Homo sapiens: one gene and its partners. The protein of the gene in region 1 interacts with the protein of each later gene in a pairwise test. Each region holds a gene or a part of one and is shown on either strand. Other genes may lie near its edges.

The links.
Region 2: the proteins of USP54 (region 1) and CHERP interact in binary tests that used the Homo sapiens proteins (3 or more experiments, as listed by UniProt).
Region 3: the proteins of USP54 (region 1) and HNF1B interact in binary tests that used the Homo sapiens proteins (3 or more experiments, as listed by UniProt).
Region 4: the proteins of USP54 (region 1) and EIF4E2 interact in binary tests that used the Homo sapiens proteins (3 or more experiments, as listed by UniProt).

Annotation. Positions count from the first base shown.
Region 1 is NC_000010.11:73,584,843-73,588,342, reverse strand, and holds part of USP54 (ubiquitin carboxyl-terminal hydrolase 54), read left to right. Parts: intron 1-3,500.
Region 2 is NC_000019.10:16,521,938-16,525,437, reverse strand, and holds part of CHERP (calcium homeostasis endoplasmic reticulum protein), read left to right. Parts: coding exon 1-196; intron 197-2,147; coding exon 2,148-2,386; intron 2,387-3,500. UniProt on the Homo sapiens protein: Involved in calcium homeostasis, growth and proliferation.
Region 3 is NC_000017.11:37,735,060-37,738,559, reverse strand, and holds part of HNF1B (hepatocyte nuclear factor 1-beta), read left to right. Parts: intron 1-3,500. UniProt on the Homo sapiens protein: Transcription factor that binds to the inverted palindrome 5'-GTTAATNATTAAC-3'. Binds to the FPC element in the cAMP regulatory unit of the PLAU gene. Transcriptional activity is increased by coactivator PCBD1.
Region 4 is NC_000002.12:232,557,189-232,560,688, forward strand, and holds part of EIF4E2 (eukaryotic translation initiation factor 4E type 2), read left to right. Parts: intron 1-695; coding exon 696-830; intron 831-3,500. UniProt on the Homo sapiens protein: Recognizes and binds the 7-methylguanosine-containing mRNA cap during an early step in the initiation. Acts as a repressor of translation initiation.

The DNA of each region.
Region 1 (3,500 bases):
GAGGCTGAGACAGGAGAATTGCTTGAGTCTGCGAGGCGGAGGTTGCGGTGAGCCAAGATCACGCCACTGTACTCCAGCCTGGGTGACTGCGAGACTCCGTCTCAAAAAACAAAAACAAAAACAAAAAACAACAACAACAAAGGATACATTTAAGAAAAAAAAAAGGATACACTTTTCCCCATTTTTTATATGGCCTTGGGATTTATGCTATCAATTATAGTTTAATCTCCTGAAATTTTTATAGTAGTTATATGTGTGTGTGTGTTTGCCTGTAAGAGAAAGAGAGATGGGGGAGAGATAATGCATATAGAGGATGGTCAGTCATCATAATCACAGTTACTCTTTATGGAATTCCTGTTTTGTACCTGGCCCTAAGTATTCTGCGTACATTATTTTGTTGCATCCTTTCAGCAGATCACATTTATTATAGGTAGTAAATGGCCTGAATGTGATGGAGCTAGGATTGGAATGTAGATTCATCTTATTCTTCATCATCATTATCCTCACCATAATCATCATCAAAACATTTATTCCACACTTACCACATATTAGGCACTGGGCTAATTATACGTATCTACATTATTTTATTTAATTCTTATAACAATCCTATGAGATAGATGTTATTATTAGTCACATTTTTTCTGATGAAGTACCTAAGAGTTAGTTCAATAACTTGGTCAATATGCCACAGCTGTTAGATGGTGGAGCTGAGACCTGTTCTATTCCACTAACTCTGTGTCCCCAAGTTGTATAATTCACATAATGTTCTCTAGGAATGGGACCCTTTGGATCTCCACTAAAAGCATGTTACCTCCCGAGGTTCTGCAATATTGTTGGCCCTGCAGAGGGTGCACTTTTTGTTTTTTTTGAGATGGAGTCTCGCTCTGTTGCCCAGGCTGGAGTGCAGTGGCGCAGTCTCGGCTCACTGCAAGCTCCGCCTCCCAGGTTCACGCCATTCTCCTGCCTCATCCTCCCGAGTAGCTGGGACCACAGGTGCTCGCCACCACACCCGGCTAATTTTTTTGTGTTTTTTAGTAGAGACGGGGTTTCACCGTGTTAGCCAGGATGGTCTCGATCTCCTGACCTTGTGATCTACTTGCCTCAGCCTCCCAAAGTGCTGGGATTACAGGAGTGAGCCACTGCACCCGGCCTGCAGAGGGTATACTTTTAACCACTATGTTCTTTCTACTACCATGCTGCTTCCTTTAGAAGTCAGTAAATTATACAACTTTAGATCTTTATAAGGAAGGGCTAAGTAGCCTGCAGCTGTCATTTCTTAGTTCTTATAATTTGTCAATTATAACAAAGTGAAACGTGCCTTTTTGTTTTCTTTCCAACTACTTTTTAACAAATTTTAGACAAATTTGTTATACATGACAGTTATCTAAGTTCTTGTGCAGGAAAAATAAGACTTTTTGTCCTTTATCAGCATACAATTCTTCTGTTGTACATGATGTAATAGTTTGAAGCTGCCAAAGTCCAGCCCTCAGGAAATTGTTTGAGTTGAGTAACTATTCGCTGGAGAGTTTAAGATAACCAGCTCATAAATCAACAAATAGCTTGGCCCTTTTTATGGTTGTAGATGCTTATCTCTTTCTATTTTCAAGCTTGAATCAGAAGCAAATATTGTTTCCATTTATATAGTCACTATTAGAAAAAGTTGTCAGCAGTATCTCAAGCTAGATAAGGCCATTTTGTGAGTTCTTTTCTTTAAGGAGAGTCAGAATTTATCAGGATGTTAGAATTGGTTGTTCTAGGCTAGGTACCTTCAAACAAAAAGTTTTCTCTTTCAATGAAACTGTCAGTGATTCAATGCCTATTATATTCAACCTCTGTGTGGAATTAGAAAGATGCCCTTAAGACAAAATGTAGTCCACGTACCCAAATAACTGTAACATGAGGGAGAATGTGAGTATTGTAATCCAAACCCCACCATGCACTGAGAGCACAGAGGAGGATGAAATAAATTGGGAGATTGGAAAGGTGAGAGGGTGAGAGAATGATCTGGGAAGGCTTTTCCTTGTAGGATAGTTAAGATTTTCAGCAAGAATAAATGGAGAGGAAAGGCATTCCAGAGAGAGGCAATATTAGAGTCAAGACAATGAGAAAGTAAAGGACAGGGTATATTTGTTATAAAGAAAGGAGTCTAGTGTACTTGGAGTGGAGGATGAGTGAGAGGCACATAATGGATGATCAATGAAATGTTTGATCAGTGAGTGAATGAGTAGATGAAGCTGGAAATGGTGGTAAGGTCCGGTGATTCTCAAACTTTACGCTGGTGCCAGACATATTTAATTCTATCTTATAATTAGGAATTAATTTTTTTTTTCTTTGAGCTGGAGTCTTGCTCTGTCACCAGGCTAGAGTGCAGTGGTGCGATCTTGGCTCACTGCAACCTCTGCCTCCCGGGTTCAAGATTCTCCTGCCTCAGCCTCCTGGGACTACAGGCACGCGCCACCACGCCCAGCTAATTTTTGTATTTTTAGTAGAGACGGGGTTTCACCATGTTGGCCAGGATGATCTTGATCTCTTGACCTCGTGATCTGCCCACCTCAGCCTCCTAAAATGCTGGGATTACAGGTGTGAGCCACTGTGCCTGGCCAGGAATTAATTTTATTGGCAGAATATGTGAATATCAAAAATATGCAGCATAAAAATCACAATCATGAACATGATTCAGTGATATGATTTGGATGTTTGTTCCCTCAAATCTAATGCTGAAATGTGATCCCCAATGTTGGGGCCTAGTGGAAGGTATTAGATCATGGGGGTGGATCCCTCATGAATAGCTCAGTGATGAGTGAGTTCTCACTCAGTTAATTCACACAAGATCTGGTTGTTTAAGAGAGCCTGAGACCTCTCCCTTGTCTCTCTCGCCATGTGACACCTGGGCTTCCCTTTGCGGTCTGTCATGATCGTAAGCTCCCTGAGGCCTTGCCAGAAGCTGAGCAGATGCTGGTGCCATGCTTCCCATACACAGTGCAGAACCATTAGCTGATTAACTTCTTTTCTTTATAAATTACCCAGCCTTGGGTATTTCTTTATAGCAGTGCAAACATGGCTTAACACTGTCAGTTAGGAAAAAAGGTGTTAAAATAGTTCCAATTGACTGCTTTGATTTTTTTCCCTCTTAATTTTGCTACTATTTGTTCAAGTTTCTGTAGTGCTAGCAGTAGACTAAGTAGGTAAGAAAAAATTATGGTAGAGAAACTTATGAAAAATCCATCTATTAATTTTCTTTCCTGTGAATTAGAAAAATACCATTGTTCTTTTCCAGCCAAAAGAATATCTCCCTCTAGGAGCCATTAAATATTTTGAAAAGGAGTGACATGGTGTGGAATGTGTTTTAGGAGTCAGGTGGTAGTGACATGTAGGATTAGAGGACTGGCAATGAGTCAGTAATGTGGTGCAGTGGTCCAGATGTGGTGAGGATCTGAACCTTAGTAGCAGCAGCAGTGAAAATAGAATGAAAGGAAATAGAGATCCACACCAGGCCCTCT
Region 2 (3,500 bases), on another chromosome or scaffold:
ATGCAGCGGCCCCCACACTTCCGGGGGCCCTTCCCGCCCCACCAGCAGCACCCGCAGTTCAACCAGCCTCCGCACCCCCACAACTTCAACCGCTTCCCGCCCCGCTTCATGCAGGACGACTTCCCGCCACGGCACCCCTTCGAGCGGCCGCCCTATCCCCACCGCTTCGACTACCCCCAGGGGGACTTCCCTGCCGGTGAGTGTACGGGCGCCTGGGTAGGGCCTGGCGGAGGCATCCACGGCTCGCCTGCCGAGCAGGCTGGTGGCGCTGCTTGTGGCCCTGCCATGCTCCTGAGTGCACAGTGACAGACACAGGGTCATGGGACGTCCGAGGAGCCCGGCCTGGGTTCTCAGGAAGTGGGGGCACAGACTCAGTTTTGCCGCCCTGATGAGGCCCGGCTGGCTGCAGATGAGGCAGAGCCAGTAGGAAAAGGTTCCTGCCGTGGGTGGGCGTGGCGAGGGCAGGGCGGGGCCTCGTTCTTTTTACTGCTGCTGCTTGTTTTTTGCATCAGTTTTCCCGTTGTATTAGTTCGTTTAAAAAATCAATACTTGGCGTGGTGTCGGGCGCCTATGGTCCTAGCTGCTCAGAAGGCTGAGGTTGCGGTGAGCTGTGATCGCACCACTGTACTCCACCCTGGGCGACAGACCGCTGTCTCAAAAAAAAAAAACAAAAAACTACTTTTCTTTTTTAAAAAAATTTTATTTTATTTTAAATAGAGATGGGGTCTTGCTATGTTGGCCAGGCTACTTTCAAACTCCTGAGCTCAAGCAGTCATCCCACCTCAGCCTCTAGAGTAGCTGGGTCTACAGATGTGAGCCACCATGCCTAGTATCTTTGTTATTGATTTTATTTCTAATCTTTTAGTACTTTTTTTTTTTTTTGAGACAGAGTCTCACCCTGTTGCCCAGGCTGGAGTGCAATGGCACAATCTCAGCTCACTGCAACCTCCGCCTCCCAGATTCAGATGATTCTCCTGCCTCAGCCTCCCGAGTAGCTGGGATTACAGGTGTGCGCCACCATGCCTGGCTAATTTTTTGTGTCTTTAGTAGAGACAGGGTTTCACCATGTTGCCCAGGCTGGTCTCGAACTCCTGACCTCAGGTGATCCGCCCGCCTCGGCCTCCCAAAGTGCCGGGATGAAAGGTGTGAGCCACCTCGCTTGGCCTTTTGTTGTTGTTGTTTGTTGTTTTTTTGAGACTGAGCCTCACTGTCACGCAGGCTGGAGTGCAGTGGCACAGTCTCGGCTCACTGCAGCCTCCTCTTGGGTTCAAGTGATTCTTCCACCTTGGCCTCCTCAGTAGCTGGGATTACAGGCATCAGTCACTATGCCCAGCTAATTTTTGTATTTTTAGTAGATGGGGTTTCGCCATGTTGGCCAGGCTGGTCTCAAACTCTGGGCCTCAAGTGATCTACCCGCCTTGGCCTCCCAAAGTGCTGAGATTACAGGCGTGAGCCACCATGCCCAGCCTTCTCTCTTTAAATACATTTCTGATTATAAATGCAGCTTGAAGACCGCTTGGCACATTTATTGCTTTTACTTTTTGGCTTGGGCTGACATGATAAGTCCCACAGCCTGGACGGCTTCAACAGCTGGAATGTATTGTCTTAAGGATCTGGGGGCTGGAGGTCCAAGGTGGAGGTGTGGCGGGTTCAGGTTAGTGTCTTGGAGGCCTGTCTCCTTGGCTCATAGGTGACCGTCTTCTCTCTACATGTCTGTGTCCTAATCTCTTATTATAACGGCAACAGTCACGTTGGATTCGGGCCACTATGGCTTCATTTTAACTCATTTGTGTCTTTGAAGGCTCTGTCTCCAAATACAGTTCCGTCCTGAGCTACTGGGGGCTGGGACCTCAGCGTATGGATTCGGAGGGTCACAACTTAGCCCTCACCGTGCAGTTTTGGGGTTTTGGGGTTCTCTTCTCTCAGCCTCAAGCTCCCTCGGCTGTGCCTATGGGTGCGGGACAGGCCCCTCGGAGCCTGGCTCCTCGGTGCCTTGCTGCCTGGTCTTAAGCAGTGAGAGAAGATGCTGGACAGGCTCCCAGGAGGGGTTCGTCTCCTGGCCCTTCACTGAGCCCCTCCCCTCCAGCACTTGTCGCCTGGGAGATCCTGACTGGCCTGTGGTCCTGAGGCAAGTCTCTGTTTTGCAGAAATGGGGCCCCCTCACCACCACCCTGGCCACCGCATGCCTCATCCTGGCATCAACGAGCACCCGCCTTGGGCTGGACCCCAGCACCCTGACTTCGGCCCTCCCCCCCATGGCTTCAACGGGCAGCCCCCACACATGCGGCGACAGGGCCCACCCCACATCAACCACGATGACCCCAGCCTGGTCCCCAATGTGCCCTACTTCGATCTCCCTGCTGGGCTGATGGCCCCCCTCGTGAAGGTAATGCCCCACAGTGGGCTCCAAGCTGAGCACGCTTACCATACTGGTCCCCGTTTCTCCTTGTGAAAAGTGAATGCACGGGACCGGGTGCCTTCCGGGGCTCCCCTTCATCTCCCACTCCCTAGGGACCCTGATCCGTCAGTGGGAGGTGCCGAACCGGAGTAGCACGGTGTGGCTGTGAGCGACACCATGTCTGCCCTGCCCTGCCCCTCCTATCCCTCCCACCACAGGGAGCTTCAGCCATGTGGGGCTAGCTAGGCTATGAGGCTCGAGTCCTCTCTTCGTCCTTCTTGGTCCAGGGCCTCAGAAGCACCTTGTCCCAGGGCTGCTGATGGAGGGAATGTCTTAGAAGGAGCCACCTGTGAGCTGTGCCTACCAAGCACACAGGGAGGGGGGTGGCCCTGGAGAAGCCGGGCAGGGCTGGCAGCAGCTGGTACCACTGTGGGATGGCCGGAGCATAGGGCAAGAGGTGAGGCAAGAAGGGGCCAGGTCTGGCCAGGCGTAGTGGCTCACACCTGTAATCCCAGCACTTTGGGAGGCCGAGGCGGGCGGATCACGAGGTCAGGAGATCGAGACCATCCTGGCTAACACGGTGAAACCCCGTCTCTATTAAAAAATACAAAAAATTAGCCAGGCGTGGTGGCAGACGCCTGTAGTCCCAGCTGCTCGGGAGGCTGAGGCAGGAGAATGGCATGAACCCGGGAGGCGGAGCTTGCACTGAGCCGAGATCACGCCACTACACTCCAGCCTGGGCGAGAGCAGGACTCCGTCTCAAAAAAAAAAAGGGGGGGTTGGGGAGGCCAGGGCCGGGGCTTGGGGCCTCCAAGGGCATGCTGGCCACTGCCACTTCCCACCCCCTCAGACACATCCACCTGAAGTCCAGGCAGACTTCACGGAGCCATGGGCAGCAGGGAGAGCTGCGGGCGGGGGCCCAGGCAAGCCAGGCAGGGCAGGGCCTCAACAGGAGGACAGAGACGGAGCAGAAGAAGGATACAGGCCAGGGGGCTCCAGGGCCGGGGCTGAGGCTGTTCTGAGCGGGGGCCCAGGGTAGGCATTGCAAGCAAAGGGTGACGTGAGGGGCCCGCTGCATGTCTGAATAAACCAGAGGGTGTTC
Region 3 (3,500 bases), on another chromosome or scaffold:
TGGAAAATTTGTATCGGTTTTCACTCTCCCCACACACTATCCTCTGGCTTTATCTAGGCTTCTCTGTCTTTATCAAGATGTTAATTTCCACCACTATCTGGGTTTCTGGGTTGGGTTTTTTCCCTGTTGCTTTTTAAAATGACTCTTGTCTTCTGTTACACACTGCTCTGAAGTGATTGTTTCAGTATTTATTGTCTCAATGTCCCTGGGCTGGTGAAAGGAATGGTTTTAGGTGTTCATTTCATATTGTGGTGTTTGTGCTTTTGTTGGGAGCATTACATGAATAGATTGGAAGAAGCAACATGAGAGCTGTTTGCTGCTTAGAGCGAGAGACCTTTCCAAGAATGGGTTGGCCCCCCATACTTGGTGACTAGCTCTTTAAGAATTTGTGTTCCTGACATGAAGCAACTCTCTGTAGTTCCTGGAAAGCCTAAAAAAATTCTCAGGAGCCATTGTCTCCAAAGACCCAACAACGCTTGGGCCCTGCCCAATTTAAGCTTTATGCAGCATTTCCAGTCTGTGCTGCCTCTCTGTATTCAATGAGAATTTCTTCAGAAAGGAGAAGGAGGCAGGAAAGGCAGACTGGAAACTTCTCAAAAGACAGAGGTCCAGAAAGTTTCTCAAGATGCTGAGGAAGGGACGTTTTACAAATACAACAGCCTCTTCAAGAGATTGTTGTTATTGTTATTTTTGTTTTATTTATTTATTTATTTATTTAACTTTTTGAGACGGGGTCTCGCTCTGCCACCCAGACTGGAGTGCAGTGGCGCGATCTTGGCTCACTGCAAGCTCCGCCTCCCGGGTTCACGCCATTCTCCTGCTTCAGCCTCCCAAGTAGCTGGGACTGCAGGTGCCCGCCACCACACCTGGCTAATTTTTTTTTTTTTTGGTATTTTTAGTAGAGACGGGGTTTCACTATGTTGGCCAGGCTGGTCTTGATCTCCTGACCTCGTGATCCGCCGCCTCAGCCTCCCAAAGTGCTGGGATTACAGGGGTGAGCCACCGCACCCAGTTGTTATTTTTGTTTTAAAGTCACACGAGACATAAAAGCTTAAGAAACATTCCTTCCTTCTGTAACTATTATACAGGCACCTACTATGTGCCAAACACTACGCTAAGCTATGGAATACATAGGTTCTTTTCTCCAGGGACTTACCTGCCATCCAGTGAAGAAGTGGAGATGTTTGAGTAAATAATGACATTCACTTTCTAAGAGCTGTTATAAAGATATACACAAGGGGCAGCAGAGGAATTGCTAAATTGCCTGGAGACATCATGGGAGGCTTCCTAGAAGAGGTGACATTCAAATCATGTCTTGAAGGATGAATGTAAGACATGCAAGCATGATATAAGAATTAGGAAGTAAGAGAAATAAAAGAGGGACACAAGTGAATGGGGTGAGGAGAAGGAGGAAGAGGGGAGAGAATAAAAAATGATACATGATTACAAATTTCCTGGAAAAACTAAAAATAACAAATGGTAATATTCATGGGCCCCTCTACACACACAGAACCTCCTTGTCCAAGCAGCCCCCAAGCCTATAAAGAGGCTACTGAAGCCAACTTCTCCAAGATAATTTTCATGGGCAATGAACATTTTCTTCCCCAACCCCAATTAATCTGAAGGGAAGTAGAGAAGAGTTGTTGGTGGCTAGAGGGAGCAAATGTGGGAGTCTAGTTCTTCAAAAATTGGGAGAGGCTAGAGCCAAGCCCCTGATGTCAGTGGAACCCGAATGGTTCTGAGCACCTACAGGCAAACCCACCTGGCTGATTTGAGGACACACTGAGTTCTGAACACTGTTCAGCCTGCTACCTCCTCAAAGGGCAGGTGAGAGACTGAGGCAGCCCTCACACTGGGGAGCAGCTGCGAGAGTGTCTCACACCCACCAGACACAAAGCTTCAGGAATCGGTTTTGTCACCTCCACACAAGTCAGATATGAAGCGTTTGCGGGGTACGTGGCTTGGGTTTTGTTTTTAGTGAGAGGTGATGCACAGGCTGGTAGTTAGGAGCCTGCAAGCCTGCAGGCTGGGCTCGTGTCCAGGCTCCTGCCCCAAGTCCACATGACTTTGGACAAGTCACTTCACCAGTCTGAACCTCAGTTTCTTCATCTGTAAAATGGAGGTGGCTGTACTTCTCACATGGAGCGGTCGTAAGAATTAGATGAAGGAATATATTTAGAGGATTTGGCACAATACCTCACCACAGAAAAGGTTCAATAAATGTGAACCGTTATTGTGTCTGTTCACATCAAATGAAAAAATCTCACATTGCTCCCAGGCCCTTGGGATGATCCACACTGGCTTTCGCCATTGGTGACTCTACTGGTGCCACACAGGGCCCACGGGGAGGAGGGAAGACACTGTGACAGACCTCACTGAGCAGGGGACATCTCCTTCTCCCCCTTGGATTTCCCCTCAAGTAACTGCATTTAGAGAGCTGCTGTGAAGTCAAATACCATAGAGGGGCTAAAGCACTTTGAAAAGTATAATCAGGTGGGGCATGGTGGCTCACGCCTGTAACCCCAATGCTTTGGGAGGCTGAGGTGGCGGGAAGACTGCTTGAGGCCAGGAGTCTGAGACCAGCTTGGGCAACATAGCGAGACCCCGTCTCTACAAAAATAATTTTTTTTAATTAGTCAGATGTGGTGGCCTGCACATCCGTAGTCCCAGCTACTTGGGAGGCTAAGGCGAGAGGATGGCTTGAGCCCAGGAGGTCAAGGCTGCAGTGAGCTATGATCGTACTACTGCATTCCAGCCTGGGTCACAGAGCAAGACCTTGTTTGAAAAAAAGAAAAAGTATAACCCCCAAAGGAATTTGGGCCAACATCACTATCATCCTGACTAGGGGTAGATATTCTAAAAGACTAGTTAGTGTCCCTAAGCTTTCAGTCAGTCTCATTCCACAGCTGGGGAGACTAAATGATGAGGGAATTAAGCTGGGGCCCCACATGATCCCACTAGCAGTGACTTCCTGCTAGTACATTTGACAGGGACTCTCTCAGGTCTATAGTGGCATTGTTGGGCACCACTGAAAACAGAGCCCTAAGGTGGCCTAAGAATCCTCCAAGGTGAATGGGCCGAAATCAAAGGCCCCAGTGACACCATCAGTCCACAGTTAAACAAAGCCCAACACCACCTGCAGTTGGGATTGCAAGTCTTGGCGGGCTAGGGGCCCTAACCATTCCTCCCGATGGAGCAAAATGGAAATGAGCCTAAGACAGGTGGTAAGTTCCCTGCTGCTGGAGGCATATAGCCTGGAGGGCCACTTGGTGTGGGGTTGTAGAGGGGATTCAAACGTTAAGTAGTAGCCTGACTTGAACCTTGAGGATTTTGGATCCAGTTGTCCAAAGGAACAGGAAGGATGGCATGTAAATGATGGCACATCATTTACATCACAAAGGGAGGTGGTAGCCTTCCACTTTCTGTGACCTGTGGGAGTAATTACAGGAACTGAGAAAGAAAGTCATCAAGGTCGGGCACGGTGGCTCACACCTGTAATC
Region 4 (3,500 bases), on another chromosome or scaffold:
GAGCCGAGGTCGCGCCACTGCACTCCAGCCTGGCAACAGAGTGAGACTCCGTTTCAAAAAAACAAACAAAGAAATATCAAAGCAATCACTAATTCATTTATTCTACAATATTGAGTAACCCTCCAAGGGTTACTAGCATTTTATGCTAGATGCTAAGAGGACACAAAGGTGAATGAGACTGTGGAAGGGGCTTACGTTTAATAGTACCAATAATAATACTGACATCTGTTGTGCACGTACTCTGTGCCAGGCACTGTGCTCAGCATTGTATATCCACTGATTCATTTGATCCTCTCAGCAGTATTGTGAGATGGTTGTTACAATTTTCCTCATTTTGCAGGTAAGAAGATGAGGCACAAACAGGTTAAGTAACTTGACAGTGATGAATCTCATAGAGGAGGCAGTGCTTGGACTGGGCATATGCTGAGATAAGATACAAAGATGAATACCTATTATATGAGGGAGAAAGTTACAAAGGCCATAAGAACACAGGTAAAGTGTTTCAGGAATTTAGAATCAGTTAACCACTGAGGAAATGTACTGTGTAAGCAGAATCTTTGGCACATTGCAGATAGTTGAGGTTGTATATCCTTTTTTAATTGTGGAGGTGGTAAGGATTGACACTGCAAAATGTTCTCTCAGTCTCAGACCACGTGACAAATGCCCAGGACTAACACACCTTCTTTACTTCCCAGGCTGTTGTCCCTGGACCGGCAGAGCATCCCCTGCAGTACAACTACACTTTTTGGTACTCCAGGAGAACCCCCGGCCGTCCCACGAGCTCACAGAGCTATGAACAGAATATCAAACAGATTGGCACCTTTGCCTCTGTGAGTTCTTGGTGAATTAATGGAGTGTGCCTTGATAGTTCGTTCATGCCTGTATTGATATGATGTTTATTTACTTTCCTAGTAACCTATTTAAGATTCTGGTTTTCTTAATTGACTGACCTGAGTCTCCGGAGTCAGATTTGTTCATTCTTAGGTTTCTCACTAGATATCCATGGTTAGCATGTAGGTATCAACAAATATGAGAATTGTAGAGTTGATCAGAAGGGCATAATACAAAAGAACAGATTTGGGTTTTTTTATTTTTATTTTTATTTTTTAATTGAGACAGAGTCTCTTGCTCTGTCTCCCAGGCTGGAATGCAGTGGTATCATCTCAGCTCATTGCAACCTCCGCTTCCTGGGTTCAAGCAATTCTTCTGCCTCAGCCTCCCAAGTAGCTGAGATTACAGGCATGTGCCACCACGCCCAGCTAATTTTTGTATTTTTAGTAGAAACGGGGTTCCACCATGTTGGCCAGGCTGGTCTGGAACTCCTGACCTTAGGTAATCCACCCGCCTTGGCCTCCCAAAAGGCTGGATTACAGGAGTGAGCCGCTGCACCTGGCCCTGTTTTTTTTTTTGTTTGTTTTGTTTGCTTGTTTGTTTTTTTTTTTAAGTATATATTTATGGAGTCCTTACTAAGTTCAAAGTGTCATGGATACAGAAGTTTATAATACATGGTGTCTATCTTCATGAAGTTTGACAGTAAAGTGAAAAATTTTGAAAGTTTTGTATTTAAGAACCTCCCATTAGGGTTTTGGCTGTATTAATGATTATGCATAAAATATCTTTTTCCTGTGTTCAGAAAGAAAATGAAATCTCTAATAATTGCTTTTGTGGGTACTGGCAGTCAGAGAGCCCAGACTGTCTCATCTCTCTCCCAGGTGACTTGGTTTGTGTACCCCAAGAATCCATCTGCAACTAACACCACTCTAGTTGAACAAAGGTTATTATGTACCCAGTGTGTGCTGTACATTCAATCTCTGGGCAGAATCAAATGTGGGGTTTGTCATTTTCTTGAAATTGGTGAAGTATTAGTCCTGTTTAAAATGCAGAAACTACGGGGGAGCGGGGAGGGATAGCATTGGGAGATATACCTAATGCTAGATGACGAGTTAGTGGGTGCAGCGCACCAGCATGGCACATGTATACATATGTAACTAACCTGCACAATGTGCACATGTACCCTAAAACTTAAAGTATAAAAAAAAAAAAAAGAATGATTCAGTGTAGTTGTATGCTAGATATATTATATGGAATTATCAGCAGTTTACCAGTTGGTTCTTTATTAGTACTCCTGATGTCTTAAACAAAAATGAATAATTGTTTATCTTTTCTCAAAGTGTCTCATCTGTTCAGTAACAATCACGGTTTTCTCCAACAGTCTTGCATATTACTTTTTTTTAAAGTGCTTTGGTTTGAAAAAAATAAAAAAATAAAATAAAATGCAGAAACTAGAAAAGAATACTCCAGTAGGAAATACTACAACAAACTGCTAAGGAGGAAGGACATATAATACATACTTTATTTGTATAATTTCCTTCCAACATTATGATAGCCCTATGAGGTCAGTGATATTATCCATGTTTTACAAATGAGGAAAGTAAAACTTGGGTTAAGTGTCTGATCTAAAGTCTCAAGTTATGGTGGGGCACGGTGGCTCATGCCTGTAATCCCACCACTTGGGGAGGCTGAGGTGGGAAGATTGTTTGAGCCCAGGAGTTTGAGACCAGCCTAGGCAACGTGATGAGACCCTGCCTCTACAAAAAAAGTTTAAAATTAGCTGGCTTGGAGAAAACGGGAGCATTAAAAAAAAAAAAAAAAAAAGGCTGGCCATGTTGGCATGCACCTGTGGTCCCAACTACTCAGGAGGCTGAGGCAGGAGGATCAGTTGAGCCTAGGAGGTTAAGACTACAGTGAGCCTTTTTTGTGCCACTGCACTCTAGCCTGGGCAACAGAGATAGATCCTGTCTAAAAAAATTTTTAAATTCTCGAGTCAGTCATAATTCACTGGATTAAGTCGAGGAGCCAGTATAATTGAAACTCAGGTACAGAAGCTTCCAGATAGCTGAACACATGGAGGTGCCTGGAGGGTGGTGCGCCTAGAGGGGACATAGAAGCTCCCTGAACCTTCCTCCATACCTTCCCCCATACCTTGCCCTACGCATCTCTTCATCGTATCCTTTGTTTATAATAAACCAGTAATGTAAGGTACCAAGACAATAACCGGGGAAAGAATCGTCTTTTCAACAAACATTGCTGAGACAACTGGATTTCCAGGTGCAGAAGAATGAATTTGCATTCCTTCCTGACACCATACACAAAAAGTAACTAAAAATGGATCATAGACCTAAATGTAAGAGCTAAAATTATAAAATTCTTAGAAGAAAATATTAGTAAATCCTAATGACCTTAGGTTAGGCAAAGCCTTCTTAAGTAACACACTAAACGCACAAGCAGCAAAAGATTAAATACTTGGCTGGGCGTGGTGGCTCACGCCTGTAATCCTTGTACTTTGGGAGGCCAAGGCAGGAGGATGACTTGATCTCAAGAGTTTGAGACCAGCCTGGGCAACATAGTGAGACCCCATCTGTATAGGATTTCATCAAAATTCAAAACTTTTCTGCTTCAAAGGACGCTATCAAGAAAGTGAAAAGATAGCCTACAAAATG